3 separate regions of the Homo sapiens genome follow, and regions 2 and 3 are each linked to region 1. The links come from fine-mapping of genetic effects on gene expression. A gene starts in region 1. Each other region holds a variant in brackets. All regions are shown on one strand. Distances are between the middles of the regions.

Region 1 (10,395 bases):
ACGCCTGGCTAATTTTGTATTTTTAGTAGAGACGGGGTTTCTCCATGTTGGTCAGGCTGGTCTCGAACTCCCAACGTCAGGTGATCCTCCCGCCTCAGTCTCCCAAAGTGCTGGGATTACAGGTGTGAGCCACCATGCCTGGTCTAGGGAATTGACTTCTTTTTGACCTTCTGCACTCCCTTCCCCAAAAGGATTGTGGCTTCTGTTGACCATTGACCTCAGCAGAAGTTGATAAGGCAGGAGGTTTCCAGTCCTCCTGGAAAACCAACTGCTGAGCATGAGTTGTCCTTGGCTGTCTCTGGGCCTCGCACCCATGGGAAGTTTTGAGGTAGGGCCCTTGCTGTTTACAACTTCTGAGAGAGTAGTGATGGGACCCCAAAGTAAGCTTGTATCAGAGGGCAGTAATGACCTTCCCATATCCCCATCCTGTGGTCACCTGGGATTTGGGTTCCCTGGGGCGGAAGTGGGAAATAGGAGCCCAGGGAAGGACATCTGAAGCACCCACAGTTTAAATAGCGACTCTTCTTGGTTAGCCAGGGCTGTGCTCATGTTGGGCCCTACCCAGGTCAGTGGCCTTTTCACTCTCAAAGATCGGGGGTGACGAAGCAGCATCTTAAACAGTGTTTAGGCTGACAGATTTTTCCAGTTGAAGAAGCTGAAGTATCTGCCTTTTGAGGGTGACTCTAGATTACAAGAGAGACTATCAGATCCAATCAGCTTTTGAAAAATCAGGAATGTGCTTAAAATGCCAGTGAGTGGTTGTGAAGATCAGGTTTATTTCCCAGGATAGGCAGTCTTTCTTTCCCTCCTTTTCCAGTTCTCTTTTCCTACCTGTCCTTCCATAAGCCTGGTCTCTAGTGCCGAGGACCTTGGAGAAGAGAGGGCCCCTAGCTAAGCTGGAGCCAGAAAGAACCTTCATGGTGAGTGTGGTTTCCCAAACTTGGGAAATGAACCTAGGGTGAGGTTAGGGAGGATTTGTAGAATTCTAGCAGGTAAAAATCAAGCCTTTTTCCCCTCCCATAGTAAACTTAACCATTTTCACCCTGTACGTTATCTTCTAGCTCCTACTAACATCTCCAATTAGACAACCGCTTCAAAGGGTGCTTAGCACCAGGGATTGGGGTTCATGGACTTAGGAGGTGGTAAGGAAACTGGCTGGCACCACCAAACTGCCTTAGTGAACTTGGCCCTTCCCAGGCAGGTAGGTTGGGCATTGAGGGAAGGTGGCCCAGTCTTTGCTGGCAGGGTCTGGCCAGTCTCATGGGGGCACCACCAGTTTGGTGACAGAAGTGGTGTCATTTATTGAATTCCACCTCCGTTTAGAAGGAGATCATGGTACAAAGCCCAGGAGGGGCCTTAAGATGTGAAGATCTCTCTGAGTAAAAGGCAAGGGGCTTCTCTTCTTCACCTCTGGGATAGTTGGTAGATCGGAGAGTTTTATTTTCAGGGTCAAGGCTGTGGACTGATGGGGATATTGGAGGGTGGGTGGGTTTTCCTGAGAGACTTTGTATAATGCTGAATGTGTCCAGAGGGACAAGTTTGCAGAACCTCATATTGGTATATTAAAGAAATAATAAAATAAAAAAGCACTTTAGGTTATTTTATCTTTAACCCGATTGCTGCAATTTCTTTTGTGTGTATATATACATATATATACTTTCCACAAAGTTTTATTTTTTGCTCAGAATAAAAAGTTAAATTGAGGTGTGAAAAGAAAAGCACTTACCTTGGTGCAATATGTGTAGCTTGATGGTCGTTGTCCCATGTGGCCCTGGCCTGGCAGCGTTTTTCCGCTCAATCAGCCCTGTGCTGTGAGACTGTCCATAGGGAAACACTATTATGCATTCTCAGCAACCGCTCAATCTATGCAAGCCTTCCCTGTGTGCCCCAGGGCGCCCCCTCAGGCTCTCTGAAGAACTGCTGTGGGTCCTGTTTTCTGCTGACTGTTGAGGCCCTTTTTCATCACTTCTTGGTCTCTCGCCATCTTTTCCCTCTTCACCATTACAAAATGATGCCTGAAAGGAAGGAACAGATTGTTCCTAGGTAGAAACCTGGCACCTTCTAGACTTTTATATTTGTAATCACATCCATTGTCCTTAAAGACTTTTCCAGAGTGATTGAAACCATTGATTTGTGGAACTGCAACAATATTTCTCAAGAGTTTACAATTGTCTTACACCACCAATCAGAAATATGTTTGGGGAGGCATGGGTGGCAGGGGGCAACATGAGCCATTTCCATACTGCTCCCCATACTACCTGTGTTGGTTCCTTAAGCAAAAAGGCCTCCAGCCTTCATTAAATCCTATAAACAAACATTACATCCCATGAATCATTATCAACTTTCTTCCTTTACTCCACCTCCCCCATTTTATCTTCAATTCTCAGGCTATAGAATAGACAAGTTTTAGAATATACTTCAGCCAAAGCAGAAGGATTTTCATAGATCCAATATGCAAATAGTTCTGCTGTGACATAGATCAGAAATTGTCTGTTCCTTAATATTTGGGGGTGGAGGCAACAAAACTGAAGCATATTTCTGATTGGTTAGCCATTTTGGCCTGTTTCCTCTTGCATGTTTTTTAGGGAGAGAGGGAAACAGTCCTGTATTTCTTCTGATGCCCTTTGGGGAAGCCGACGACCACTGGGCATTTCTCACTGTTACTCCTGTTCAAGAGAGGGCTTCTCAGTCTGCACTGAAAAATGCAAATTAAACTGGATCTTTATGTCAATGTGTACATAGTACAAGCTTTTTTACTGGAATTGAGGTTTAAAACCACACACTGCCCTTTTGGTGGTGTGCCTGTTGGGCCAAAAATTGGGTGATAATGTAGTGTCACTTTCTCAGCTCAATGCAGTTTCTACTTTTTCTTATGGGAAAATTTTTCATAAAACCTTTTTGCACCAAAACCCAGGGGTGTTTTTTGCAATATCCTTGTTATCCTCGTAGTGTGCCAAGTCAGAGGCTTTCTCTTGCCCTTTTCCTGCTGTGTTCTCAGGCCTCCCAAGGGCTATTTGACTCAACAGTCTACATCCTTCGTTGTGTTTTGGAGAATGTGGGGGTGGGGGTCAGAGTTCAAGGTGTCTGTTCCCTTTTCCTGTGAACTCTTTCTAGTCCCTATTTGGGGAGGGTGGCTGGAAACAGATTTTTGCTGAATTTCTGGCTCAGATCTTCTAGCCAGGAAAGGCAAGAGCCCCCAAGAGCCCTTTTTTTTGACATACACTAATCATTGGCCGGGGTCTTGGTGACAACTTTTAAAATCCCAAATAGTTTTATTTGGATTATGTAAAAGTAAGTGTGAAACATGGGAACAACGGACTTCCACTGAGCGATGTGAAAACGTTACAGGTTCAGTACTTCCAAAGGAAGAAACCTCCAAACCCAAAAAAGAATAAATATGAATTTGTATTTTTGAAGAATGTGAAATAATGGTGTTTGCTTAATTGCTCATTTTGTATAAACTTAATATTGTACTTTAAAATATCTGCTAAAAAGTGAAAATTTAACTTTTTGGAATTGAAAAAGCAATATTAAATACTAATGAAATCCTAATTAAATGCTTATTTAAATCTGGTAGTATCTGTGGCATTTCTTACCAACCCTGCCCATAGTTGACATTTTTCCACCACTCCCCCCTTCCCAGCCATCAGTCTTGGAGAGGGGACAGAAAGGAAACGTCGGTCACCAGGAGAGTCTGCAGGTTTCCTTTTAATCAAGGCTCTACTGAAGGTGTTTTGTGGGGCTAAAAGCCCCCAAAACATGAAATGGACATGTAACACCACCTGGATCCCCCATAGCAGGCCAGACCACTCTGGCGAGCACTGCTGGTCTGCCCAAATCTGGGTAATCAGACTGGGTATTCATTGGCTGCATTTCAAAGCACAGCACTGCTTTCAGCCAGGATGAAGTGGGAGTGAACCCAGCTGCTAGCAGAGCTGCCACTCCAGGCTGAGAGCCAAGTACCAGCCACTGCCAGTGAAGACTGGCCCCTTTACTGAAGGGAGTTGTTCAGAGTCCAGCCACCGGCCCTGGGGAGGGAGAGAAGTCAGGGTATTCTGCTCGGGGATGGTCAGGGCTCCGCAGCTCCATCGCCAGCATCCTTTGGAAAGCCGCCTCTGGCGGAGACAGCCGGCTGGGGGGGCGCTCCAGGTTTGGCTGAGACGTTCTAGTTGGAACAGAAAGGAAAAAAGTGAGGCTGGGAGGCAAGGCCTTGGATTAGGCCCCACAAGGATGTGGCCATTTGGCATTTGGATAGTATTAACTTTTTCGAAACCTCTCACCAGATCAAAGGAGGTTAGGGATAAAGCGGCGGAGACATACTTCCCCCCTCCAGGGTAAGCTAGGGCTTGGCCAGCCTAGCCAGTGGGCAGACCCCACCCCACCCCAGCCCAGCCCAGGGTGGGCACTAACCCCGCCACCAGCCGGCTCCGGGCGCCGGCGGCCCAGCTGCCGTAACATCTCCTCGCAGGCTGCGATGGTGTCCAGGAGCTGCCGCTGCCGCTGCTCCACCGCGTCCAGCAGCTGCTGGGCGCGCTCCTCCCGGGGCGGCTGTGGGGGTGGCCTCCCGCCGAGCCCCAGCCCCGCCTTCCCGCGGTCCACGCCGGCAGCCTCCCTGCCCGGGAGAGAGCGAGAGACAGACGGTCAGGGCCGGCGCTTGCGCGGGGCCAAGCCCCTTCCTCCCGCCCCGACGGGCCCCCTCTCACCCCCGTGACCAGTCTGAGCCCGGGCCCCATTCCATCTCCGCTTGCGCGGCCCGACCACCGCCCCCCTTTCGGCCGCCCCCCTCCCCAGCGCTGCGTTAGGGCTTCGCAAGGCTGCGCCCCGCCCCGTCCCCACCGGTCTCCTTCAATCCTCCTGGGGGTCGTGGTCCCTTTAAGCTGCCCGGCGCAGAGGCGGGGCCGAGTCTCCTGGACCGGAAGCTGGCTGGGAGCGTCACTTCCTCCCGGAAGCGGGCCTGGGCGGATGTCTCCGGCGCGTCGGTGCAGGGGGATGAGGGCCGCGGTGGCTGCCAGCGTGGGGTTGAGCGAGGGGCCTGCTGGCTCCCGGAGCGGTCGCCTCTTCCGCCCGCCGAGTCCCGCTCCGGCGGCCCCCGGCGCCCGGCTGTTGCGGCTCCCGGGGAGCGGGGCCGTGCAGGCCGCGAGCCCGGAGCGCGCCGGCTGGACCGAGGCGCTGCGGGCCGCCGTGGCCGAGCTGCGCGCCGGCGCCGTGGTGGCCGTCCCCACCGATACGCTGTACGGCCTGGCCTGCGCGGCGAGCTGCTCGGCGGCTCTGCGCGCTGTGTACCGCCTCAAGGGTCGCAGCGAGGCCAAGCCTCTGGCCGTATGCCTCGGCCGCGTGGCCGACGTCTACAGGTAAGGCCGCCCCGACCCGGCCCCGCTAGGGGCGGCACCGCGGGAGGGGTTTCCGGTGACAGGCTTGGGAGACTGAGGCGCAGAGAGCGGGAGGGGCTTGTCCAGGCTCACCAAGGAATCCGGAACTGGAAATATGTACCGAGGACTTAACGTGCCCCGGGCCCTGAACTACATGCTGCTGGGAAGCAGCAACACACGAGAAAGGCAGGGACCCTGTTCCCTTGGCGTATTTGTGCTAATTGGGGAGGCCCCCGGGAAAAAAGCAAACAAACACAGTAGCTTAATTTAATAGCGAATGCCTTGAAGAAAATAAAACGTGGAGCTTGATCCCACTATCATGATATCACAGCGGTGCAGCTGTTGTAGTCCCTGAGACCAGAGGCACATGGGCGTCAAGCCAGGGGTGCGCCTCTGGAGCCCTGCTTTCTGCTCAAGCTCTTAGGGAGGTGAAGCAGGGAGACAGGCGGCTCCCATTGTAAACTCGAAGGATTCCTTTTCTACGTCTGCCTAGAGTCTAGGAAAGGACCACCAGTGGCCCTTCAATTTTGAATGGATTTATTCTTCTGTGTTTCCCAGATACTGCCGTGTGAGAGTACCTGAGGGGCTCCTGAAAGACCTACTGCCAGGACCAGTGACCCTGGTGATGGAACGCTCGGAGGAGCTCAACAAGGACCTAAACCCTTTTACGCCTGTGAGTCAAGTTTTCTCTTGTGTCCCCAGACTCCAGGCCACTTGGCTTTCACTAGGATCCAGATAAGACTTACCCTCTTATCCCTTCCAACCTTTCTCATGATCCCTTTCCCCTTGCCTTACAGCTTGTAGGCATTCGGATTCCTGATCATGCTTTTATGCAAGACTTGGCTCAGATGTTTGAGGGTCCGCTTGCTCTCACTAGTGCCAACCTCAGCTCCCAGGCCAGTTCTCTGAATGTCGAGGTGAGTTTACCCAGTCCTTCCCCTGGAAATGTCACCAGCGCACATACTGTTTTCTGTGAATCAGTGGCATTGATAGTACACTGGGATGGCCAGGCATGAGAGTTCTTGGGCCAACAGTGGGAAGGTTGCCCAGCTGGCAGGGAGGTGGTGGGGGGCAATATAAATTAAAAAAATTTGAAAGATTTTATCTCAAAGTCTGAAAAGCCAGGGGGAGAATTGGTCTTTTCTTCAGTCTTTATAATAATAGGAAAGATTATAAGAACAATGTCTTCCTGTTTTTCTGGAGATAACAGTTTCTGGAGAACACAGTTAGGCTATAAATCTTCACGACAGTGCTGTAAAGAAAGATGAAGAAGGCCAAGGGCAGTGGCTCATGCCTGTGACCCCAGCACTTTGGGAGGCCCAAGCAGGTGGATCATGTGAGGTCAGGAGTTTGAGACCAGCCTGGCTAACATGGCAAAACTCCATCTCTAATAAAAAATACAAAGATTAGCCAGACATGGTGGCGCATGCCTGTAATCCCAGCTACTTGGGAGGCTGAGGCAGGAGAATCACTTGAACCTGGGAGGCAGAGGTTACAGTGAGCTCAGATTGTGCCACTGTACTCCAGGCAGGGCTCTAGAGCGAGACTCTGTCTCTTAAAAAAAAAAAAAAAGATGAAGTTTAGCCTCCAGAAAGTTAAATCACTTGTTCCAGGTCACACAGCCATTAAGTGACTGACTCAGATTTTTAACCAGTTTTTGATTCTCGCCCCTGTTCTCTTATCTCTGCCACAAGCCAGATCAAAGAAAGGATCATCCTAATCCTTTCTTGGCTACATAGATTAGAACAAAGGAGGACACATAGAAATTTCGTTTTTTTTCTTATTACTAAGATGTAAAACGTAGTAATAAGCTACATTGTGTCCCCAGACTCGGCCAGACACATAGTATCACACATAGTATCCAGCATCAGGCCTTGGGCCTTCCTTGGGCTTATTACATCCAGCTAATAAGCCTGGATAGAGTAACTTGCGTGCAGTCACATAGAGATACGATGGAAAGTCCAGAGTTAGAGCCCGTATCCCTGCTCAGAACTCCATTCGATGGGTTTTCCATTCCCAGACCTAGAGTGGGGCTCAGGGTTCTTAGAAAGTGAGAGTTCAGCATCCCTTCCCATTCTCAGAGTGCAGGTTTGACTTGGTCCTGGTGGCTGTACCCCAGGAGCAAGAATCGGGATGTGGCACAGGGAGGGGAGGTTTTTACCTTGTCAGCAATCATTTGACCTGTCCAACACAGTAACTGGTATTTATGATTTCCTGTCCCAGATTTCCAGGCCTAACTGCCACTGCAGTGTCTTCCTTGGGGGGTTGGGGAAGCTCTAGCTCAGTTAACAATTCAGTCCACTGCTCTAGGGGGAGTATCCTTCTCATAGCCCAAAGACTGAGTGCTGGTGGCATGCAGAATCTACCATGTTCTACTCTTCCTACCCTGATCAGAGTCGCAGTGAGATCCAGGAGCATAGTTCTAGAGCTAGAAGGAGCTGGAATCACTTGTTCCAGGTTACGCAGCCATTAAGTGACCAGATTTTTACCTAGTTTTTTTTTGTTTTGTTTTGTTTGAGACAGTCTCACTCTCTTGCCCAGGCTGGAGTGCAGTGGCACCATCTCAGCTCACTGCAACCTCCATCTCCCGGGTTCAAACAGTTCTCCTGCCTCAGCCTCCCGAGTGAGTAGCTGGGATTACAGGCGTGTGCCACCATGCCCGGCTAATTTTTGTATTTTTAGTAGAGATGGGGTTTCACTATGTTGACCAGGCTAGTCTCAAACTCCTGGCCTCAAGAGATCCAGCCTCCCAAAGTGCTGAGATTACAGGCGTGAGCCACCATGCCTGGTCTTTTTACCTAGTTTTTGACTCTTGACCCTGTTCTCTTATCTTTGCGGCAAGCCAGGTCAAAGAAAAGATCATCCTAGTCCTGTCTTGGCTACATAGATTAGAACAAATGAAATGAGGACATAGGATCATCTAGTCCAGCCCACTTGTCTTGTAGGCCTGGATAGAGTAACTTGCATGCAGTCACACGGAGATACGATGGAAAGTCTAGAGTTATAGCCCGTATCTCTGCCCAGAACTCCATTCATTGTACTTATATTTCCCTAACTGAAGCAATGTGTGAAATTTCCTTTTGACATAGCAAGATTTTCTTTAAACCCTAGATAGGTGTTACTTGGAGTGCTAACCCAGGAGGCCTCCAAACCTCATAGAATACAGTGTCTTTGGCACAGTTGACCTTAACTAAATGAAGCTCCTTTCTCTGCTTAGAGGAAAGTGCCTTCTGTTTTAAGACTATATGGCCTTTGATGACTGCGTGCAGTTTGACATTATTGGATACACCAGGGATAGTGTCCATGCTCTTCCTTCTCCCTCTTCTCAGGAGTTCCAGGATCTCTGGCCTCAGTTGTCCTTGGTTATTGATGGGGGACAAATTGGGGATGGCCAGAGCCCCGAGTGTCGCCTTGGCTCAACTGTGGTTGATTTGTCTGTGCCCGGAAAGTTTGGCATCATTCGTCCAGGCTGGTAAGTCTCTTTCCTGTGGTGTGGGGAAATAATTTGAGGGAGGTTGGAGAGATGCAAAAAAGCTTTGACAAGATAAAGATGGTGCCTCCTATGTTGCCCTGAAGGAGTGTGGGCCAGGTTTGGAGAAGTGGTAGTTGCAGTGGGACTAAGTTTCCTGGCTTTCTTAGGATTCAAAAGGTTTCATCAAGGGTTGATGAACAGGGCTTAACAAGGCTAGCCAGTTTCGATGTCCCTGCTCACCAGCCTCTGGTGGGCTCGGGACTTCTGAGAAGTCAGACTGGTAACTGTCCTGTTTCCTCCTCAGTGCCCTGGAAAGTACTACAGCCATCCTCCAACAGAAGTACGGACTGCTCCCCTCACATGCGTCCTACCTGTGAAACTCTGGGAAGCAGGAAGGCCCAAGACCTGGTGCTGGATACTATGTGTCTGTCCACTGACGACTGTCAAGGCCTCATTTGCAGAGGCCACCGGAGCTAGGGCACTAGCCTGACTTTTAAGGCAGTGTGTCTTTCTGAGCACTGTAGACCAAGCCCTTGGAGCTGCTGGTTTAGCCTTGCACCTGGGGAAAGGATGTATTTATTTGTATTTTCATATATCAGCCAAAAGCTGAATGGAAAAGTTAAGAACATTCCTAGGTGGCCTTATTCTAATAAGTTTCTTCTGTCTGTTTTGTTTTTCAATTGAAAAGTAATTAAATAACAGATTTAGAATCTAGTGAGAGCCTCCTCTCTGGTGGGTGGTGGCATTTAAGGTTCAAACCAGCCAGAAGTGCTGGTGCTGTTTAAAAAGTCTCAGGTGGCTGCGTGTGGTGGCTCATGCCTGTAATCCCAACATTCTGGGAGGCCCAGGCGGGAGAACTGCTTGAGCCCAGGAGTTCAGAATCAGCCTGGGCAACATAGCAATACTCCGTCTCATAAAAATTAATAAATAAAAAGTCTCAGGTGACCAAAGGCTCCTGAAGCTAGAACCAGGTTTGGATAAAGATTGAAGAGCCACAGGCCACTCTTCCCTCTGAGCCATTGGGCCTAGTGGTGTCATGTATTGTAATTGCTCGCAGGGAGAGCAGTCTTTTTGGTGTAATAGTGGGATGTCTGCTTAGTTGGCAGGGGTTCAGTCCAAATGGAAGAATATTGGGAAATAAACCTCCACTATCCTTTATAGCCAGGGACTTTTTTCTTATTTATTCATAAAATAAATTATAGTTAATTATACCCATAACACCTTTATTTAAATCCAGTGTTCTCCGCAGCCTTTTGTCTATTTATATGTGTACCAAGTGTTAAACATAATTATTATTGGGCATTTGAACTTTGTTTTTCTTTAAAGAAATGCTGCTATTAAACATATTTGTAAATGGTTTGTTTTTCTTCTTTTGAATTATTTCCTTAGGAGAGTAGGTCAAAGTGTAGGAAGTATTTATGGCTCTCAGTATGGATTAGCCTTCAAAAGAACTGAGTCAAGTTACACTGCTGTTAGCAGTGTGTGAGAATGGCTGCCTCTGCCCCCTGGCCTTCCCATGTTTAGTATTTTTCAGATTGTGTGTGTGTTAAATGA
Region 2 (10,395 bases), 29 kb before region 1:
CCTCAGCTTCCCAAATAGCTGGAACTATAGGCATGTGTCACCATGCTCGGCTGATTTTGTGGTTTTGTTTGTTTTTGGTAGAGACAGGGTCTTGCTGTGTTGCCCAGGTTGTCTCAAACTCCTGGCCTCAAGTGATCCTCCTGCCTTGGCCTCCCAAAGTGATGGGATTACAAGCATGAGCCACCGCACCCTGCCTTCTTCTTTTTCTTTTCTTTTTTTAAACAGGCTCGATTCACTTTATTTTTCTTGTGTAAAATTCCTGTGTTATAGCCACAGTTGGAGCCTGGGTCCTCTGCACAGAGACTCTGGTGTGGGTCTTGATGAGGTGGTCAGTGAATTCCTGACGGGGAGACTTGGTGAATACAGTCTTTTTCCAGAGATCAGGGGTCAGGTAGCTATAGGTCTTAGAGGTGGCCTAAAGGGTGGCTTTGGTGAAGTTGTCCAGGGTAGCAGTGCAGCCCATGGCAGAGGTATAGCAGTTGTCAATACCATCCATCAGCAGCCGTTTCCTGGGCATGGGCCAAGATGATGCCATTGCCTTGGGTGGGGTGGGGGAGGGATAAGGCACACCAGCACAGAGCCACAGCAGCCTGTCACCTTGCAGGGGACGGCGTGGGGCTTGCTGATCTTGTTCCCCTAGTGGCCTCTCCAAACAGGAACAGTGGAGAGCTTGACCAGGATCATGGCCCCTTGGATGACATTGGCAACCTCCTTGGAGCACTGAACATCCAGACCGATGTGGCCACCGTAGTCCCCGATGGCCTTGAACCTGGTGTGCTGGCCAGCGCGGGTCTGCTTTTGCAGAGGTGTAGTCTTCAAAAGCTCATCCTCGAGAGGTGACCCCAGCAAAAAGTCAATGATCTCAGACTCCTTAATGGGCAGGGAGAAGAGCTAGACCTTCTCCAGGGACTTGATCTTCATGTCCTGGACCAGGCAGCCCAGCTTGGTGATGGGCATCCACTCCTTGTTCTCAGCCTTGCCTCTGAGAGCTCCATGGCCTCAGCCCTGGCTCCAGGCCAACCACAGCCATGACCCTGGCCCCAATATCCCTGCCAAAGTCTCTGAGGAAGCTGCTGGGCCTCCCATTCCAGGCCCTCCACTGCACTAGAGTCATCTGCCATTTGATATTTGTCGGAGAAGCAGCTTTTTTTTTTTTCTTAACCTTCTGCCATGAGGTGAAGAATTGACTCCCCTTTCAAGAAGTTTGATGGTGAAAGGAAACAAGAGGCTGGCAGTTTGAGAATTATCACATCACCAAATCTTCCAAGAAATTTGCAATATGTTGTTGTCATTTTGTAGGCTTGAAAATATGCAGTGGAAACAATCTAGGGAAATATGTTTGATGATTAAGTATGTAAATTTCCAGATGTTTTAAACTCAATTTAATATTGGTAATTCCAATCAAGTTGTAGTTCTGGAGGTCAGGGTGTTTAGTCAAGCCTTAAAACAAAGTTAAGATCTTATCTGAATACAGGTAGCTGTAACAGTATAGTGTACTTTTAGTGGGTAGATGTATATAGAGTCTGAAAACATTCTTATGTTCATTTAGAATATTCATCTACATATAGACTTATTTCTTCCCCATAAATCATTATGTGTTGTCCAGGTATGATTTGATCAACAATAAGGTTTTTCCACTTTGCTGCTAGAGGCTGTTTTCTGTGTTTATGATGAAAACCCAGTTGTATTGTCCACAGCATCTCTTGGGAGCTGAGCTCTGGGTGGGGGAGTTAAGCCCTGGGCAGCATTTTTGTCCTGTTGATGAGGTATCTTTTCTCTGCCAGGTAAAGCGGTACCAATGTACCTTTGAGGGCTGTCCCCGCACCTACAGCACAGCAGGCAACCTGCGAACCCACCAGAAGACTCACCGAGGAGAGTACACCTTTGTCTGTAATCAGGAGGGCTGTGGCAAAGCCTTCCTTACCTCTTACAGCCTCAGGATCCACGTGCGAGTGCACACGAAGGAGAAGCCATTTGAGTGTGACGTGCAGGGCTGTGAGAAGGCATTCAACACACTGTACAGGTCAGTCTCGTCTCCAATGCTCTGCCAGCCTCTGACCTTGACCTTGTTGTGATGGCAGAGCTCTTTCCCCTTGCAGAGGAGTTGTTTTCACTTTCAGGGCTTTAAAAGAGCGCAGCTGTGTTCAACTACGTAAAATTCATTTCTGCCAGATCTCAGAAAATGAAAGAAAAAAATTTAAAAATGCATTAGAGAAACCTGTTACTTAAAGATGGACGTATCTTGGGCTGGTTAGAAGCGACAGTACATTTCTGTTTAGATTTGCATCTCATGGAGCAGCATTCTGGCCTGGGCATTTCAGTGCTTGGCATAGAGTACTATCTCCCCTTGGCTCAGGATCTTTGTGCTAAGGCTTCTGTCCTACCTAAGCTTGAAGGACTTTTCTATCCTGAGAAATGGGGAGTGGCCTATTCAGTAGCCAATTCTCTTTTTCACGTTTGTATCAGGAGACTTAATAGTCTTCAGTATTGAGTATAAAGTAATAGAAATAACAGTAGCTAACACTTAAAAATACTCACTGTGTGCTAGGCATGATTCCAAGTGCTAGTCCCCACAATAGCTGATAAGTAAATGGAAGCACAGAGGGGTTCTATAACTAGCTTAAGTTTCCCCATCCAAGCAGGATGTGGGGTCAGGATTTGAATCCCAGGAAGTCTGTCTCCAGAGTCACACTCATACCACTGTGCTATTCTCTGCGTTTCTTTTGGGGCAAAATATGTTGGATACTAATATGTTATGGGTATAGAATTCTTACGCACTTGATCCTGAAGCACATTAAGCTGGCATGGGGAGGCTCTGTAGAACTTTATGACAAAGGGAGGCCAGGCGCAGTGGCTCATGCCTGTTATCCCAGCACTTTGGGAGGCCGAGGCAGGCGGATCACCTGAGGTCAGGAGTTCGAGACCAGCCTGGCCAACCTGGTGAAACCCCGTTGTACTAAAAATACAAAAATTAGCCAGGCGTGGTTGTGGGCTCCCATAATCCCATCTACTTGGGAGGCTGAGGCAGGAGAATCGCTTGAACCTAGCAGGAGGAGGTTGCAGTGAGCCGAGACTGCGCCATTGCACTCCAGCCTGGGCGACAAGAGCGAAACTCTGTCTCAGAAAAAAAAAAAAAAAAAAAAAAGAATTTTATGACAAAGGGAATTTTTCTGGAATATTTTGCAGGCTGAAAGCACATCAGAGGCTTCACACAGGGAAAACGTTTAACTGTGAATCTGAAGGCTGCAGCAAATACTTCACCACACTCAGTGATCTGAGGAAGCACATTCGAACTCATACAGGGGAAAAGCCATTTCGGTAGGTCTTACTGTTTTCTATTTGTCACTGACCAGGTTTCAGCTGGGGGTCTTGATATACTCTGGAATTTTTCAAAAAAGAAAGAAAACTCCCTTTACTAGCTCTTGATTTAGCAGTGTTAGCTCACCCCAGGACAGCTATAACCAACCACTGCAGATTAGAGGGGTGCTGATGGAGTCCAAGAACATCCTTACTCTGTGGATGATGGCCTTTCTGCCTCATTTTTTCCCATTTATTTCCAAGAAGCATTTGTTGAAACTCAGTTATGTGGTGGGTACTTTTATTAGTGCTAGAGAAATACTCCGAAGCAGGCCTTCTTCTTAAGAACCTTTGTCTGGTGACAAAAAACCACAAATTTGTGGATAATATCTGAGGCTGCAAGATGGCCAAAGTGCCTTAAGCCCAGAGGAGGGATACCTACCTAAGAATCAAGGAGGGAGGGAATGAGGAGACAAGAGAGGAAATGAGAGGTAGGGATGCTTAGCTTAGTGGTGCAGTTGTTACTTGTTCAAATTATTGCTTTGTAATATCTCGTGTGTATACACAAACATATAGGAGCATCCATTTTTATTCATATATGTCAACATATGTATATCTAATAGATACATTTACTATAAACTTGAAGGAGGGACTTGGGTTATCTACTTTCTTCTCTGCTCATAGTATATAGCATGATTCCAGGCATTCAACAGGTATTCAAAATCAGCTTTGGGATGATTATATGACATTTTTAATGAGATAATCAGTTTGTAAGGATTTCCCCTAAATGTAATATAGATAGATGTATTGCCAAAAACTGCCCATAAACAATGTCTTTGAGGCCGGGCATGGCGGCTCATGCCTGTAATTCCAGCAATTTGGGAGGCTGAGGCAGGTGGATCATGTGAGGTTAGGAGTTTAAGACCAGCCTGGCCAACATGGTGAGACCACATCTCTACTAAAACTACAAAAATCAGCCAGGCGTGGTGTCACATGCCTATAGTCCCAGCTACTCTGGAGGCTGAGGCAGGAGAATTGCTGGAACCAGAGAGGCGGAGGTTGTGGTGAGCCAAGATTGTGCCATTGCACTCCAGCCTAGATGACAGAGTGAGACTCTGTCTCAAAAAAAATAAAAATAAAAAAAAAATAAACAATGTATTTGAATTTTGGCAGGGGATATTCAAGGCATTAGATATGCTACCTGTTCCTTCTTAAACCACTCGTTTTGTTAGGGTACTTAGAAATAAAAAGTCGTTAGAGACAGTCAACTCTTAGATGCCAATCAAATGGAATTGTGGGCTGGGCTTATGTCTGTAATCCCAGTGCTTTGGGAGACTGAGGTGGGAGGATCACTTGAGCCCAGGAGTTCAAGACCAGCTTGGGCAAGTGAGACCCTGACTCTACAGAAAATTTTAAAATTAGTTGGGAGTGGTGGCGCATGCGTGTGGTCCCAGCTATTTAGGAGGCTGAGGTGGGAAGATTGCTTGAGCCTGGGAGGTCAAGGCTGTAGTGAGCCATGGTCATGCCACTACACTCCAGCCTGGGCAACAGAGAGAGACCATGTCTCAGAAAAAAAAGGAATTGTGTTTTTAAGTTACAGATGCATTCCTGAGTCATGATCCCTTTAAGGGCAAGAGTAGTTAGATTGTAATTGGTTACTCTACAGATGGATGCTGTGAAGCTTAGGTTATTCCCCGCCGCCCCCCTTCCCGTAGGCTGCTGAGAGGACTCTGATTTCTATCCAGTCACATGCATTTATTTTTGTGATGATTAAAACTGCATTTTTCTTGAATATTCAATGAGACTTTAGACATGATGATGATTGCATGTAATTAAAAATGAAAATGCTTTAGAGAAGCTTTCTATTTAAAGAAATAAAATATTTTGGTTTATAAGAAAATGCATTCATTCATATAAGTAATTAAGGAATGTCTGCTATGTGCAGGAACTACAGAAAGAGCTACGTGGATCCTGTACTCAAGTAGTTTACACTCTAGGAGAGCAGATACCAGATGTATCCACAGAGAAAATAAGATTGGAAATGAGAGTTGCCATAAAAGAAATGTAAAGAAAAGCCTTAGGAGTTCTGAGGAGGGAAAGATTCCTTTTAGCTTTGGTTATCAAGACAGTAAAAGAGAATGAAGTAGATCTCGACACACAAGATTATAGATAAGTTACTTGAGCCTATCTTCTGATTGATTTTGTTCTTATGTTACATTGCAAGCCATGTACATATTTGAGAGCCACTTTGCTTACTCTTGATATTCCTAATGTTCCACTGGCAGATTTTTCATATGGACTGTCACTGTCAACAGAGGTCTGTTAAGTAATTCATCAAAAGACTTTTGTTGTCAGGGCTCTCAACATGGACCTTACCTGTAGGACAAGAAATACTTATCCTGGGCTCTCAGTTCTCTCTGATCCCAGATATGCCACCTTACTTTTTCAAGAACCTCTCATCATTCCCATCTCTAAAACCAGTGTCATTGATCTGATCTTAGTGTTCTGAATATTTGTTTTAGTTTCTATTTATAAGAGATGTTCAGAGGCCAGGCACAGTGGTTCACGTCTGTAATCCCAGCACTTGGGAGGCCGAGGCGGGCGGATCACAAGGTCAGGAGATCGAGACCATCCTGGCTAACATGGTGAAACCTTGTCTCTACTAAAAATACAAAAAATTAGCTGGGCGTGGTGGTGGGCACCTGTAGTCCCAGCTACTCGGGAGGCTGAGGCAGGAGAATGGCATGAACCCGGGAGGTGGAGCTTGCAGTGAGCCAAGATTGCGCCACTGCACTCCAGCCTTGGGGACAGAGCGAGACTCGATCTCAAAAAAAAAAAAGA[C/T]GTTCAGGATAAAGATCTATTAGCTAATGACTCCTGTTTCTCTTTCCTTAACAAATTTAGGTGCGATCACGATGGCTGTGGAAAAGCATTTGCAGCAAGCCACCACCTTAAAACTCACGTTCGTACACATACTGGTGAGTTTAGGCCAATTTTTGTTTCATCAAGCCTGTAACTATCAATTTTCCATTGAGACCTGTAGAGCTAGGTGGATATACAGAGATATAGATCCTGTATATATTCAGGTGAGCATAATTAGCTCAGCCTTACCTAGAATGTTTGGGTTTCTTTCAGAGGCGGACCTCAGGTATTCAACCTTAAGAGATGAAACCAATACAGAGACACTCTAAAAAAAAACAACCTGTGAGAAACAAATCTACTCTTTAAACTTCCCAGCAGTAGGCATTCCCAATGCTTTGCTCAGCATTGAGTTTGAGGACTGAGATGATTAATGTGTAATTTATTGAACTTTTAACAACTGTTACCCAAACTCTCTTAAAAATACTTACTTACCTCTATTAGGGAAAGGTAGATTTCTTAATCCAGTGAAATGACTTTATGGTAAATTAACACTACTTTGTTATTCTTGCAGGTGAAAGACCCTTCTTCTGCCCCAGTAATGGCTGTGAGAAAACATTCAGCACTCAATACAGTCTCAAAAGTCACATGAAAGGTCATGATAACAAAGGACACTCATACAATGCACTTCCACAACACAATGGATCAGAGGTGTGTAGTGTTTTTGTCTCTTGATCTGGGTACCATAGAACTTCAACAGTTGTTTGTGTATCACAATCAAAGGTTAAAATGTCTTCTCTGTATATCTGTTAGTGAGCGGGAAGAAGTCAGGGTCAAGATCAGTGTCTTGACTTGTGTATTTAACCACCTACTCGACGTCTTCACCCAGATATCATCTACTCTTGTCAAACTTAACATGTCCAAACCTGTTCTTCCTGCAGTCTTCCTCGTCTTGGTAAATGGCGGCTCTGGTTTTCTAGTGGCAAAGGCCAAAAATCTTATAGTCATTCTTGACTCTTTTTTCCCTCACACTCCACATCCGCCAGCAAAGTCTGCCAGCTCATCCTTGATAATTTATCTAGAATCCCATCACTTCTTCTGATTACTTCATTCAGTCTACTGTTGTCTTTTTGCCTGGATTATTGCAATAACCTGTTAAGTGAGCTTCTTAGGACCTTTTCCCCCTCTTCTGTCCACTCCACAATAGACTGTCCTACATATATCAGCCAGAGTGATCTTTCTGAACCATAAAGCAGATAATGTCTGTCCTCTGCTCATAACCCACAGTAGCTTTTTAAATTTTTATTTTATAGATTTTTAAAAATTATTTTAATAGAGATAAGGTCCAAGCAGTCTTTCCCTTCCCCCACCCCCGCCGCCCCCACCCTCTGTCTCAGCCTCCCAAAGTGCTGGGATTACAGGCATGAGCCACCCCACCTGGCCTCCAGTAGCTTCCTGTATCACTTGAAGTAAAAGTCAGTCTTTATAGTAGGCTATAGGGCCCTACACATTCTGGCCTGGTTGCTTCTCTGATCTCATCTACCTCGCTTTTATTTTTGTTTTATTTCATTTTATTTGAAACAGGGTCTTGCTCTGTCCTGTAGGCTGGAGTGTAGTGGTGCAATCTCTGCTCACTGTGACCTCCACCTCCCTGGCTCAGGGATCCTCCCAACTAGCTGGGACCACAGGCATGCACCACCACACCCAGGTTTTTTTTGTGTTTTTAGTAGAGATGTGGTCTTCACCATGTTGCCTGGGCCGGTCTTGCACTCCTAAGCTTAAGTGATCTGTCTGCCTTGGCCTCCCAAAGTACCGGGATTACAGATGTGAGCCACTGTGCCCTGCCTACTTTTCTTCCTCTCACTTCAGCCATATGGTCCTCTTTGTGGTTTCTTGAACCAAGGAGTGTCCACTCCTGCCCCTAGGCCTTTATACTTGCTGTACCCTCTGCTTGGAACATCTTCTCTAGATATGTGCATGGTTGATACCCTCTTTCCTTCACTCTCTACTCAAATGCCACTTACCTAAAAGGGCTTCCCTAACCACCCAATAAAAGAGCAACTCCTATCCCAGAGTTCCCTACTGCCCTTACTCTCCATAACACTTATCCTCTTGCACATTGTATATTTATTTGTTTTTTGTCCTCTCTGCTAGAACGTAAGCTCTACGTGGGGAGGAGTTTAGTTTGTTCATTAATGTATCCCTGGGTCTGGAACGGTGTCTAATACATAGTAGATGCATTATGAATGTTTGTTGAGTGTGTGCATGAATAGGAGCATCTGAGGTAAGCAGGGCTACCACCTAAAGTGTGAATTGTGACTGGCATTCTGGGACTCCAGAGTTCACTTAGTCTGGGCAGTGGAATTTGAATTCTAAATCCCCAGTACCACTCTGAGTAAGGAGCCTTTCAGTGCCCATGTGGGAAACACAGTGGTGGAAGGACCATTGACTTTTCAGTCAGAAGCACTGGATTTGTCTTCTGCTAATTAGCTGTGTGTTTGGGGGCACTTGATTCCTACTGTCTGAGCATCAGTTTTCTGATATTTAAAATGGGAATATAAGTTTGTGGCAATTTGTTACAAAAAGAATAAAAAATGGGGATATAGAGTAATACTTCCAAGGTTTATATGAATGGCAAATGAGGTCCTGTGAAATCACTGTAAATGATGAGACCAGGTATACAGATAGTATTAATTTCACATTATTATAGGTTTGTTACTTTGGAGCCTTAGTCATAAGATAATGTTAAAACTCTTTATTATTATTATTATTTTTTTTTTTTTGAGACAGAGTCTCACTCTTGTCGCCCAGGCTGGAGTGCAGTGGCGTGATCTTGGCTCCCTGCAACCTCTGCCGCCCAGGTTCAAGTGATTCTCCTGCCTCAGCCTCCCGAGTAGCTGGGATTACAGGCACACACCACCGCGCCTAGCTAATTTTTTGTATTTTTAGTAGAGATGGGGTTTCACTATGTTGGCCAGGCTGGTCTCGAATTCCTGACCTTGTGACCCACCTGCCTCAGACTCCCAAATTGCTGGGATTACAGGCGTGAGCCACCACTCTCAGCCTCTAAAACTCTTTATTAATCATTTTTAAGAAATGTAAGATATTCTTGTAAGAATATCAGGATTTTTAAAAATTAACTAATTCACGGGGTGGGGCAGGGGAGGGATAGCATTAGGAGATATACTTAATGTAAATGATGAGTTAATGGGTGCAGCGCGCCAGCATAGTACATGTATACATAATGTAACAAACCTGCACATTGTGCACATGTACCCTAGAACATAAAGTATAATTTAAAAAAAATTAATTCATTTAGCCCTTGCTTTGGTTGGCTTATACTTCTTCAGATAATACATGTAGACATGTGGAACATTAGGGACTTTGTAATCAAATGTTTTGTTACATGATATGCCACTGTAAATCCTGATTTTTGTTACTCAATTAGAATTTTTTCTCTTTCACAGGATACAAATCACTCACTTTGTCTAAGTGACTTGAGCCTTCTGTCCACAGATTCTGAATTGCGAGAAAATTCCAGTACGGTAAGTGTACCTGTAATACCAGTGCTAGAAAAATAAGGGCAAGAATTAAGCACTCCCTTTGGTGGGAAAATTGAGGCAGGCCAGTCTTTGAAGTTTTCTAAATTTAATTGTGTTTAATTACTGACCATGTAGGATTTTTTCTTCTTCTGATAAGAGTTCTATTAGAGCCTGTTCTCTCTGATGCCTGATTCCTTTTGACGCAGGTCACTCACTCGGTAACCTGGCCCCAGAAAATTTCTTTTTTTTACTCATTTAGCAAATATTTATTGACCAGGCACTGTGCCAGTACTGAGCTTATAGTAGTTAAAAATGTTGGTATAGTTTGTCCTTGAGGAACTTAAAGTCTAGTACTGTAAGACATAACCAGAATTCTAGTTTCTGGACTTTCTCAAATCCTATCTATATGACCTGGCTTGGTCTTTTCCTTTTTCATTTTAATTTTATTTATTTATTTTTTTTCTGTGCAATGGGGAGAGAAAAATTTCCCTTCTTTAGGTTTATTAGCTTTTTGAAGAAAACCTCTTACACATATAGAGGCCTCTATCTGCTAAAGGACAAGCCCACTTTATCTTAATCTGATTGCTTTGATTCAAGCTGTTAGGAAATTTGACTGCCATTCCCATGGCTCCATGATGCAACTTACAAACCAATGCATTGAGTCTGAGCTTATGCAGCCTCCTCCATGTTGAACATGAGA
Region 3 (10,395 bases), 87 kb before region 1:
AAAAAAATTCAAGGTAAACATGGAGATCTGTGGGAACACCAGACAAACTTCCAGTGGAACGTAGTTCAGCCGGGCACAGTGGCTCACGCCTGTAATCCTAGCACTCTGGGAGGCCAAGGCGGGCGGATCATGAAGTCAGGAGACCGAGATCATCCCGGCTAACACGGTGAAACCCCGTCTCTACTAAAAATACAAAGAAATTAGCTGGGTGTGGTGGCGGACTCCTGTAGTCCCGGATACTCGGGAGGCTGAGGCAGGAGAATGGCGTGAACCCGGCAGGCGAAGCTTCAGTGAGCCGAGATCGTGCCGCTGCACTTCAGCCTGGGCGACAGAGCAAGACTCCATAAAAAAAAAAAAAAAAGATGAAATGGAAATCTTTTTATGTGTATTATTTTTTCAAATTGCTACTAAGTTGTTAGGACTTAAATACTTATTTGGCCCTAACTACTTAAGTAGAACTGTTAGGGATTCCTTTTGGCCTAGAGGTACCTTGAGAAAATTATTATTATTATTATTTTGAGGCAGAGTTTCGCTCTTGTTGCCCAGGCTGGAGAGCAATGGTGCGATCTCGGCTCACCGCAACCTCTGCCTCCCAGGTTCAAGCGATTTTCTTGCCTCACCTTCCTGAGTAGCTGGGATTACAGGCATGTGCTACCACGGCTGGCTATTTTGTATTTTAAGTAGAGACGGGGTTTCTCCATGTTGGTCAGGCTGGTCTCGAACTCCCAACCTCAGGTGATTTGCCCACCTCGGCCTCCCAAAGTGGTGTTGGGATTACAGGTGTGAGCCACTGCGTCTGGCCTCAGAATTGTTAATCAGGACCCCCATGGAACACCATTATCAACTAGAGTACAATGCTTCTGTACAGTTCCACTTGCCTTTAGTCTTTTTTTTTTTTTTTTTGACAGTTTCACTCTTGTTGCCCAGGCTGGAGTGCAATGGCGCGATCTCGGCTCACTGCAACCTCCGCCTCTCGGGTTCAAGCGATTCTCTTGCCTCAGCCTCCCAAGTAGCTGGGATTACAGGCATGCGCCACCACACCTGGCTAATTTTGCATTTTTGGTAGAGATGGGGTTTCTCCATGTTGGTCAGGTTAGTCTCGACCTCCCGACCTCAGGGGATCCGCCTGCCTCAGCCTTCCAGAGTACTGGGATTACAGACGTGAGCCACTGCTCCTGGTGCCTTTAGTCTTATAGATACCACTCATTTCTAAAGTTACTTAGGTAAACACTTTTTCCCCTACTCCCTTCAATGAGGTGGTTTCATACCTTTGTGATATAGGTTAGACACTTTTGTCATTTTCTGCATTTTACTCCAGAATCTCCTGACGTCCTAAATGATTTTTTAAAATTTTGTATACATTAAGGTTCATTCTTTTTTTTTTTTTGAGACAGAGTCTCACCTTTCGCCCAGGCCAGAGTGCAGTGGCGCGATCTCGGCTCACTGCAAGCTCCACCTCCTGGGTTCACACCATTCTCCTGCCTCAGCCTCCCGAGTAGCTGGGACTACAGGTGCCTGCCACCGCTCCCGGCTAAATATTTGTATTTTTAGTAGAGATGGGGTTTCACCGTGTTAGTCAGGATAGTCTCGATTTCCTGACCTCGTGATCCACCCGCCTCGGCCTCCCAAAGTGCTGGGATTACAGGCGTGCGCCACCGTGCCCAGCCCAGTTTCATTCTTTGTGTTGTAAAAATCTGTGGGTTTTGAAAGCTATAGATACTACCATGTATCACCATTATAGTTTCTTTTGAGTATAGTTTTGCTGTCCTAAAAAGTCCCCTGTTCTTCATTTATTTGACCCCACCCTCACCCCCAAAACCCCTGGCAACCATTGATCTGTTTACCGTCTCTATAGTTTTGTCTTATCCAGAATGTTGTGTAATTGGAATCATATAATAAATAGCCTTTTCAGATGGACTTCCTTCACTCAGCAATATGCATTTAAGATTCATTCATGTATTTTCATGGCTTGATAACTAATTTTTCTAATTGCTTAATATTTTATTATATGGATGTATCACAGTTTATTCATCTGTTGAAATATATCTTGGTTGCTTCCAGTTTTTGGTGATTTTAACGCTGCTATAAACTTTTCTGTGCAGGTTTTTATGTGTACAAAAATTATTTTTCTTGCCATATTTTTTAGAGGTGGGATCTCCCTCTGTCACCCAGGCTGGAGTGCAGTGACAAGATCACACCTCACTGCAGCCTTGAACTCCTGGGCTCAAGTAACCATCCCTCCCCAGCCTCCCAAGTAGCTAGGACTATGGGCATGTGCCACTACTTTTATCTTATTTTATTTTTATTTTTATTTAATTTTATTTTATTATTATTATTATCATTATTTTTAATTGATCATTCTTGGGTGTTTCTCGCAGAGGGGGATTTGGCAGGGTCACAGGACAATAGTGGAGGGAAGGTCAGCAGATAAACAAGTGAACAAAGGTCTCTGGTTTTCCTAGGCAGAGGACCCTTCGGCCTTCCGCAGTGTTTGTGTCCCTGGGTACTTGAGATTAGGGAGTGGTGATGACTCTTAAGGAGCATGCTGCCTTCAAGCATCTGTTTAACAAAGCACATCTTGCACCGCCCTTAATCCATTCAACCCTGAGTGGATACAGCGCATGTTTCAGAGAGCACAGGGTTGGGGGTAAGGTCACCGATCAACAGGATCCCAAGGCAGAAGAATTTTTCTTAGTACAGAACAAAATGAAAAGTCTCCCATGTCTACCTCTTTCTACACAGACACGGCAACCATCCGATTTCTCAATCTTTTCCCCACCTTCCCCCCCTTTCTATTCCACAAAACCGCCATTGTCATCATGGCCCGTTCTCAATGAGCTGTTGGGTACACCTCCCAGACGGGGTGGTGGCCGGGCAGAGGGGCTCCTCACTTCCCAGTAGGCGCGGCCAGGCAGAGGCGCCCCTCACCTCCCGGACAGGGCGGCTGGCCGGACGGGGGTCTGACCCCCCCGACCTCCCTCCTGGACGGGGCGGCTGGCCGGGCAGAGGGGCTCCTCACTTCCCAGTAGGGGCAGCCGGGCAGAGGTGCCCCTCACCTCCCGGACGGGGCGGCTGGCCGGGCGGGGGGCTGACCCCCCCACCTCCCTCCCGGACGGGGCGGCTGGCCGGGCAGAGTGGCTCCTCACTTCCCAGTAGGGGCGGCTGGGCAGAGCGCCCCTCACTTCCCGGATGGGGCGGCTGGCCGGGCAGAGGGGCTCCTCACTTCCCCGTAGGGGCGGCTAGGCAGAGGCGCCCCTCACCTCCCGGACAGGGCGGCTGGCCGGGCAGGGGGCTGACCCCCCCACCTCCCTCCCTCCGGGACGGGGCGGCTGGCCGGGCGGGGGGCTGACTCCCCCACCTCCCTCCCGGACGGGGCGGCTGGCCGGGCAGAGGGGCTCCTCACTTCCCAGTAGGGGCGGCCGGGCAGAGGCGCCCCTCACCTCCCGGACGGGGCGGCTGGCCGGGCGGGGGGCTGACCCCCCCACCTCCTTCCCGGACGGAGCGGCTGGCCGGGCAGAGGGGCTCCTCAGTTCCCAGTAGGGGCGGCCGGGCAGAGGCGCCCCTCACCTGCCGGACGGGGCGGCTGGCCGGGCGGGGGGCTGATCCCCCCACCTCCCTCCCGGACGGGGCAGCTGGCCGGGCGGGGGGCTGACCCCCCCACCTCCCTCCCGGACGAGGTGGCTGCCGGGCGGAGACGCTCCTCACTTCTCAGACGGGGCGGCTGCCGGGCGGAGGGGCTCCTCACTTCTCAGACGGGGCGGTTGCCAGGCAGAGGGTCTCCTCACTTCTCAGACGGGGCGGCTGCCGGGCGGAGGGGCTCCTCACTTCTCAGACGGGGCGGTTGCCAGGCAGAGGGTCTCCTCACTTCTCAGACGGGGCGGCCGGGCAGAGACGCTCCTCACATCCCGGACGGGGCGGCAGGGCAGAGGTGCTCCCCACATCTCAGACGATGGGCGGCCGGGCAGAGACGCTCCTCACTTCCCAGATGTGATGGCGGCCGGGAAGAGGCGCTCCTCACTTCCTAGATGGGATGGCGGCCGGGCAGAGACGCTCCTCACTTTCCAGACTGGGCAGCCAGGCAGAGGGGCTCCTCACATCCCAGACGATGGGCGGCCAGGCGGAGACGCTCCTCACTTCCCAGACGGGGTGGTGGCCGGGCAGAGGCTGCAATCTCAGCACTTTGGGAGGCCAAGGCAGGCTGCTGGGAGGTGGAGGTTGTAGCGAGCCGAGATCACGCCACTGCACTCCAGCCTGGGCACCATTGAGCACTGAGTGAACGAGACTCCGTCTGCAATCCCGGCACCTCAGGAGGCCGAGGCTGGCGGATCACTCGCGGTTAGGAGCTGGAGACCAGCCCGGCCAACACAGCGAATCCCCGTCTCCACCAAAAAAATACGAAAACCAGTCAGGCGTGGCGGCGCGCGCCTGCAATCGCAGGCACTCGGCAAGCTGAGGCAGGAGAATCAGGCAGGGAGGTTGCAGTGAGCCGAGATGGCAGCAGTACCGTCCAGCTTCGGCTCGGCATCAGAGGGAGACCGTGGAAAGAGAGGGAGAGGGAGACTGTGGGGAGAGAGAGAGGGAGGGGGAGGGGGAGAGGGAGAGGGATTTTATTATTTTTTAAGAGATAGGGGTCTCTATTGTCCAAGCTGATCTCAAACTCCTGGGCTCAAGCAGTCCTCCTGCCTCAGCCTCCCGAATAGCTGGGACTATAGGCACAAGCCATGGTGCACCCAGC[A/G]TACTTTCAGATCAGTAAATATCTAGGAGTGTCATGGGTAGAACATATGGTAAGACTGTTTAACTTTTTAAGAAACTGCCAAGCTGTCTTCCAAAGTGTCTGTATGATTTTCCATGCCTACTATCAATGGATGAGAGTCATGGCTCCTCTGCATCCTTGTCAGCAATTGGAATTGTCAGCTGGTTTTCTTTTTTTTAAATTTCAGTCATTCTAACAGATGTCCCCAATACACCATTACTAACTCAAATACCTTAGCTCTCTAAGCTTTATTATAGCTCAGTGAGAGTAAAGAAAGAGAAGTAGAATCCAGCTGGGGATTGCATTTCTAGAAATAATTATTAAGTAACTATGGGTTAGTAGAACTCTAGACATAACCCATTCTAGTTCTCCTTTCTTATTTTTGTTATATTTTGGAGACAATGGGAAGATTACCTGAAACATTCCAAAAGAATGCTACAGACTTGAACTTGGATGTTACGTATTTAAACATATAAGGCACACAGGGGCCGGGTATAGTGGCTCATGCCCGTAATCCCAGCACTGGGAGACCTGACGTCAGGAGTTTGAGACCAGCCTGGCCAACATGGCAAAACCCGTCTCTACCAAAAATACAAAAATTACTTGAGTGTGGTGTTGCGTGTCTCTAATCCCAGCTACTCGGGAGGCTGAGGCAGGAGAATAGCTTGAACCCGGGAGGCAGAGGTTGCAAAGAGCCAAGCTTGCGCCACTGCACTCCAGCCTGGGCAACAGAGCGAGACCCTGTCTCAAAAAAAAAAAAAAAAAAGAAAAAAGAAAAACATAGACGCATGGGGATTCAGGTTCATTGCGCATTTAATATTGAATTGTGTGACTGTACTGCCTATAATGTGCTGGGTGGTATGCTGAATGATGGGGATACAGTGATGCATAAATCAGACAAAGTCTAGTCCTCAGTAAGCTTACAGTCTAACTGGGAAGAAAAAACACCTACAGTACACAGCAATCAAGACTGTGATGGGGAGTACAGGGAGCTATGGAAACACCAATGTCAGGGCATCTAACCAGCCTAGGAGAGGTTAGAGAAGTCTTCTTGGAGGAAATGACCTCTAAGATATGGCCTATAGCAGGAGTTGGTGAAGTGCAGCCTATAGGCCAAATCCAGCCTGCCATCTGCTTTGGTACAGCTCATGAGCTAAGAATGATTTTTTGCATTTTTAAATGTTTGAAAAGATTCAAGAGAATAATGCTTTGTGATATGTGAAAATTGTATGATATTCAAATTTGAGCATCTTTAAATAACATTTCGTTAGAATGCAGCCACACTCACAGCTGCTTTTGCACTATAGCAGCAGAGTTGAACAGTTGCAAGAGACTGTATGACCTGCAAAGCCTAGGATATTTACTCTGTGGCCCTTTACAGAAAAAGTTTACTGACCCCTGGCACAGGATGGGTAGGAGTTAGCCTTATAAAGCAGAATGAAGAAGAGGGAAGTTGCTTTCTGACGGGATCTTTGCATAGCTGCAGTAACCTTAATATGCTTAGAGCATGGCATCAAGGAGGTAGGGGCTGAAGGACTGTGGTGAGTATTGGGGCTAGAGCAGTGGGTAGGATCCAGACTGGGAAGAGCCTTGGCAATTGTATGTATGGATTTGGGTTTATCCAGTATGAAGCCTTTAAAAGATTTAAAGTGATGTGATCCGATTTACTTTTTAAAAAATCCTCTGGCCACAGTGTAGAAACTGGGTTGGAGAGGGTGGGGTGAGAAAAGAGGCAGGGAAACTAGTTGAGGCTTTTATAGTCATTCAGGGGAGATGTTGGTAACCTAGACTAGCACAGTGACACTGGGGATAGGAATATATTGGTTTGAGAGGCATTTAGGAAGCAAAATTGAAAGGCTTTGGTGTCTTAGTTTTTAGCCTTAGTCTGTAGGCTGTTATAACAAAATACCATAGACTGAGTGGTTTATAAGCAACAGAGATTTGGCTGGGTGTGATGGCTCACACCTGTAATCCCAGCACTTTGAGAGGCTAAGGCAGGAGGATCATTTGAGCTCAAGAGTTCGAGACCAGCCTGGGAAACATGGCAAAACTCCATCTCTACAAAAAAATACAAAAAGTTAGCTGGGCATGGTGGCTTGTGCCTGTTAATCCCAGCTACCAGAGAGCCTGAGGTGGGAGGATCACATGAGCCCTGGAGGTCAAGGCTACAGTGAACCATGATCAGGCTGCTGTACTCCAGCCTGGAGACCCTGTCCCAAAAAAAAAAAAAAAAAAAAAAAAAGAAAAAGAAAATAATAAAAAAACATACAGGAAAAACACCACAAAACAAAAGCAGAGATCAGAGATTTATTTTTCACAGTTTTGGAGGCTGAGAAGTCCAAGATCAAGGTGCTGGCAGATTCAATGTCTGGTGAGGGCCTGCTTTCTGGCTTAGTGGCAGCTGTCTTTTTTCACTGTGTTCTCACATAGCAAAAGGGGAACTCTAGTCTCCTCAACCCTTATAAGGGCACTAATCCCAATCATGAGGGCTCCACCCTTGTGACCTAAACACCTCACACCTAAAGGCCCCAACTCCTAGTATGTTATCTTGGGGGTTAGGATTTCAACATATGACTTTGGGCAGGGGTATAAATAATCAGTCTATAGCATTTGGTGATTGATTGGAGGCATTGAGGTGTAATTATTTTCATGTTCAAATGATTATGCTTTCTTTTTTCAAAAGTTTTTTTCTGGTTCATGTGAATGCATGGTTGAGAAATCCATGTTTAGTAATAGTCTTCGCAGCAAAATTCTTCAGTGGTGTTTCATTCCTCCAGAGCTCCTTCCCATAACTTGGGTTTTAAAATCACATCTCTCTGTGACCGCTTCATGTTGTTCCCTGTTGACAAGAGATCTGGCTTTTAAAGAGCAGAGAAGCTATTGGCAGATTAATTTTCCTTTCCAGGTTTATCTTGGTTTAACGACTTTCCCAAAATATTTCTGGGTTGGGCCCTTGGGCTCTTTGGTTTTCAAGGCAATTTGTCAACAATGACAAGCGCTTCTCATTTTCTAGAGCTCTTAGACTATTTCCAGTTTTAATCTCTGACCCTTGCCTTTCTCCTCTTCAGAGTGGAAGTCGCTATGTTATGTTTTATAATATGTTGTATTGCTTTTAAAGTGCCTACTCATATGTCAACTCAGTTGACCCTACATTAAACCTGTGAAGAAGGCAGGACAGGTCAAATTACTGAGATTGAGAGAGGTTAGATGGCTTTTCCAAAGTCAGGAGGTAATAAATAATAAAGCAGGTGATAAAACTCAGGTTTTCAGATTTCATGGTTTTATTCTTTCCTTAATGTACCCTTTATCCAAGAAAAGGGAGTTAGACTAGCTGGAATAGTTACACTTTCAGCAGTAAAGATACCTGGATGAGATACTTTTTTCTCCTTCTGTGTATGGTCTGTGGGACTTCACCCAGACATCAGCATAGGCCCTTTGAAGCAATATGTGGACTACCAATAATTCCTAGACTACAATTTCCGAAGCTGTTGTCTGTATATTAAAGCATATGTATGTTTCATTTATTTATTTATTTGTTTGTTTGTTTGTTTTTGAGATGGAGTTTTGCTCTTGTTGCCCAGGCTGGAGTGCAACGGCACGATCTTGGCTCACTGCAACCTCCGCCTCCCGGGTTCAAGCGATTCTCCTGCCTCAGCCTCCCGAGTAATTGGGATTACAGGCATGCACCACCATGCCTGGCTAATTTTGTATTTTTAGTAGAGACGGGGTTTCTCCATGTTGGTCAGGCTGGTCTCGAACTCCCGACCTCAGGTGATCCACCTACCTTGGCCTCCCAAAGTGCTGGGATTACAGGCATGAGCCACCATGTCCAGCCTATGTATGTATATTTTAATTTCTTCTCCTTCCCTTTAGGTGGTTCTAACTTTGATGGTTTGAGACCAAATGGGAAGGGAGTGCCTATGGACCAAAGCTCCAGGGGTCAAGATAAACCAGAAAGCTTGCAACCAAGGTAATGCAACTCTCCCTTCACTTGTCCCTTGTAGGACTGAGGTTCTCCTCACAGTACTGAGACCATTTTGGGTATAATGTAAGTTGTCCCAGGGTAGCTGGCCTAGGAAGTGTCCTTTTTTTTTTTTTTTGAGACAGAGTTTCGCTCTTACTGCCCAGGCTGGAGTTCAGTGGCATGATCTCGGCTCACCGCAACCTCCACCTCCTGGGTTCAAGTGATTCTCCTGCCTCAGCTTTCTTGAGTAGCTGGGATTACAGGAATGTGCCACCACACCTGGCTAATTTTGTATTTTTAATAGAGATGGGTTTTCTCCATGTTGGTCAGGCTGGTCTCGAACTTGTGACCTCATCTGATCCTCCCATCTTGGCTTCCCAAAGTGCTGGGATTACAGGCATGAGCCACCGTGCCTGGCTGGAAATGTTCTTAATAATACCTGACATTTATTTGCACTTACTGCCAGGCACCCTGCTCTTATTTGGACTATCTTATTTTAGCCTAAGAGGTAAGTACTTTTTTCTGTTTTACAGTTAGGGAAACTCAGGTAATGAGAAGTTATATAACTCACCCAAGGTCCCAGAATTATCAAGTGGTCAATCTAGGATTTGGAACTGGCAGTCTAGCCCTCCCTTGAAAATGTAGATTAGAAACGTTTGATTTCACTCTTTCATTCTTTTAGGTGTTTCCTGACTCTGAAGTGACTTTTTTTCCTGTTTTATTTACTCTTTCCTGACTCGCCCCTGAGGTGTGTTATTATATAAATATCTGAAGTCTGTACTCCAGTGCCCCCTACTGAATATCTCCAGAATCTGTCTGGTCAAGATAAAACACTTACTTGTATCAGTATTTTAGTTACGACTATAAATACAGTACAATGCAAATAATAATAAAATATAAATTCTCATTGCCTTTCTTTTTATTTTGGATTATTCCTGTGGAATAGATGTACAGAATAGAATGATCAAGTTAAAGGACCTAGAGGGTTTTACAGTTTTTTTCTTTTTTTTTCTTTTGAGACAGAGTCTCACTTTGTCACCCAGTCACTGCAGCCTCCGTCTCCCAGGTTCAAGTGGTTCTTGTGTCTCAGCCTCCCGAGGAGCTGGGATTATAGGCATGTGCCACCACACCCAGCTCATTTTTGTATTTTTGGTAGAGATGGGATTTTGCCATGTTGGCCAGGCTGATCTCGAACTCCTGGCCTCAAGTGAGTTGCCTCCCTTGGCCTTCCAAAGTGCTGGGATTACAGGCATGAGTCACCATGCCCGGCTTGTCAATTACATGATTGAATCCCATACTCTGCCACCATTCATGTGGGTGAGGCGTTAATGACACTGGGTTTCATTTTTCTCATTTAGAACTGAGGGAATTAGATTATCTTTAAGATGCCCCTCTGGTCTGAGATTCTGTGACTCTATTATTAGGAAAATCTCCAGACCAACATATTATACAATCAACAAAATATAAATTTACTTAATTCCACATAGAAATAGTGTTGTTTTAGTAGATAAATTTTACTTTGGCCTCCTTTAGTCTTCTGTGACTTAGATGCTTGTATAGGGGAACTTTTAGCTTTGTATTCATTCATTTTGCCATGGGGACTCATCCACATATGAAAAAAATACTTCTGTTTTTCCAGACAGAATAAATCCAAGTCCGAAATTACTGACATGGTTCG

The links. PIP is the estimated chance that this variant, and not a neighbour inherited with it, causes the effect. A credible set is the group of variants that fine-mapping cannot tell apart.
Region 2: its variant is the best candidate, but not a certain one, in a credible set for the expression of C1orf122 in whole blood (INTERVAL, PIP 0.67).
Region 3: its variant is the best candidate, but not a certain one, in a credible set for the expression of C1orf122 in whole blood (INTERVAL, PIP 0.50).

The regions. Positions count from the first base shown.
Region 1 is chr1:37,802,748-37,813,142 of GRCh38, reverse strand. C1orf122 (chromosome 1 open reading frame 122) reads right to left here and starts at 5,353. Exons shown (of 3, transcript NM_198446.3): 1 at 4,704-5,353; 2 at 4,411-4,612; 3 at 3,689-4,165. The coding sequence starts at 4,738. The coding sequence ends at 4,070. It overlaps YRDC (yrdC N6-threonylcarbamoyltransferase domain containing), which reads left to right and starts at 4,935. Exons shown (of 5, transcript NM_024640.4): 1 at 4,935-5,351; 2 at 5,928-6,042; 3 at 6,167-6,286; 4 at 8,699-8,841; 5 at 9,146-10,198. The coding sequence starts at 4,963. The coding sequence ends at 9,218. MTF1 (metal regulatory transcription factor 1) reads left to right here. Exons shown (of 11, transcript NM_005955.3): 11 at 1-3,569. RefSeq lists silencers at 4,296-4,845, 5,026-5,285.
Region 2 is chr1:37,831,548-37,841,942 of GRCh38, reverse strand. It overlaps MTF1 (metal regulatory transcription factor 1), which reads left to right. Exons shown (of 11, transcript NM_005955.3): 3 at 1,785-2,023; 4 at 3,187-3,318; 5 at 6,199-6,272; 6 at 6,728-6,864; 7 at 9,621-9,698. It also overlaps the pseudogene RPS2P13. Among named protein-coding and RNA genes, the nearest start is that of MTF1, 23 kb to the left of the region's middle. The variant C/T (reference allele first, on the strand shown) is at 6,139.
Region 3 is chr1:37,889,686-37,900,080 of GRCh38, reverse strand. INPP5B (inositol polyphosphate-5-phosphatase B) reads left to right here. Exons shown (of 24, transcript NM_005540.3): 8 at 8,627-8,723; 9 at 10,357-10,395. Among named protein-coding and RNA genes, the nearest start is that of MTF1, 35 kb to the right of the region's middle. The variant A/G (reference allele first, on the strand shown) is at 4,736.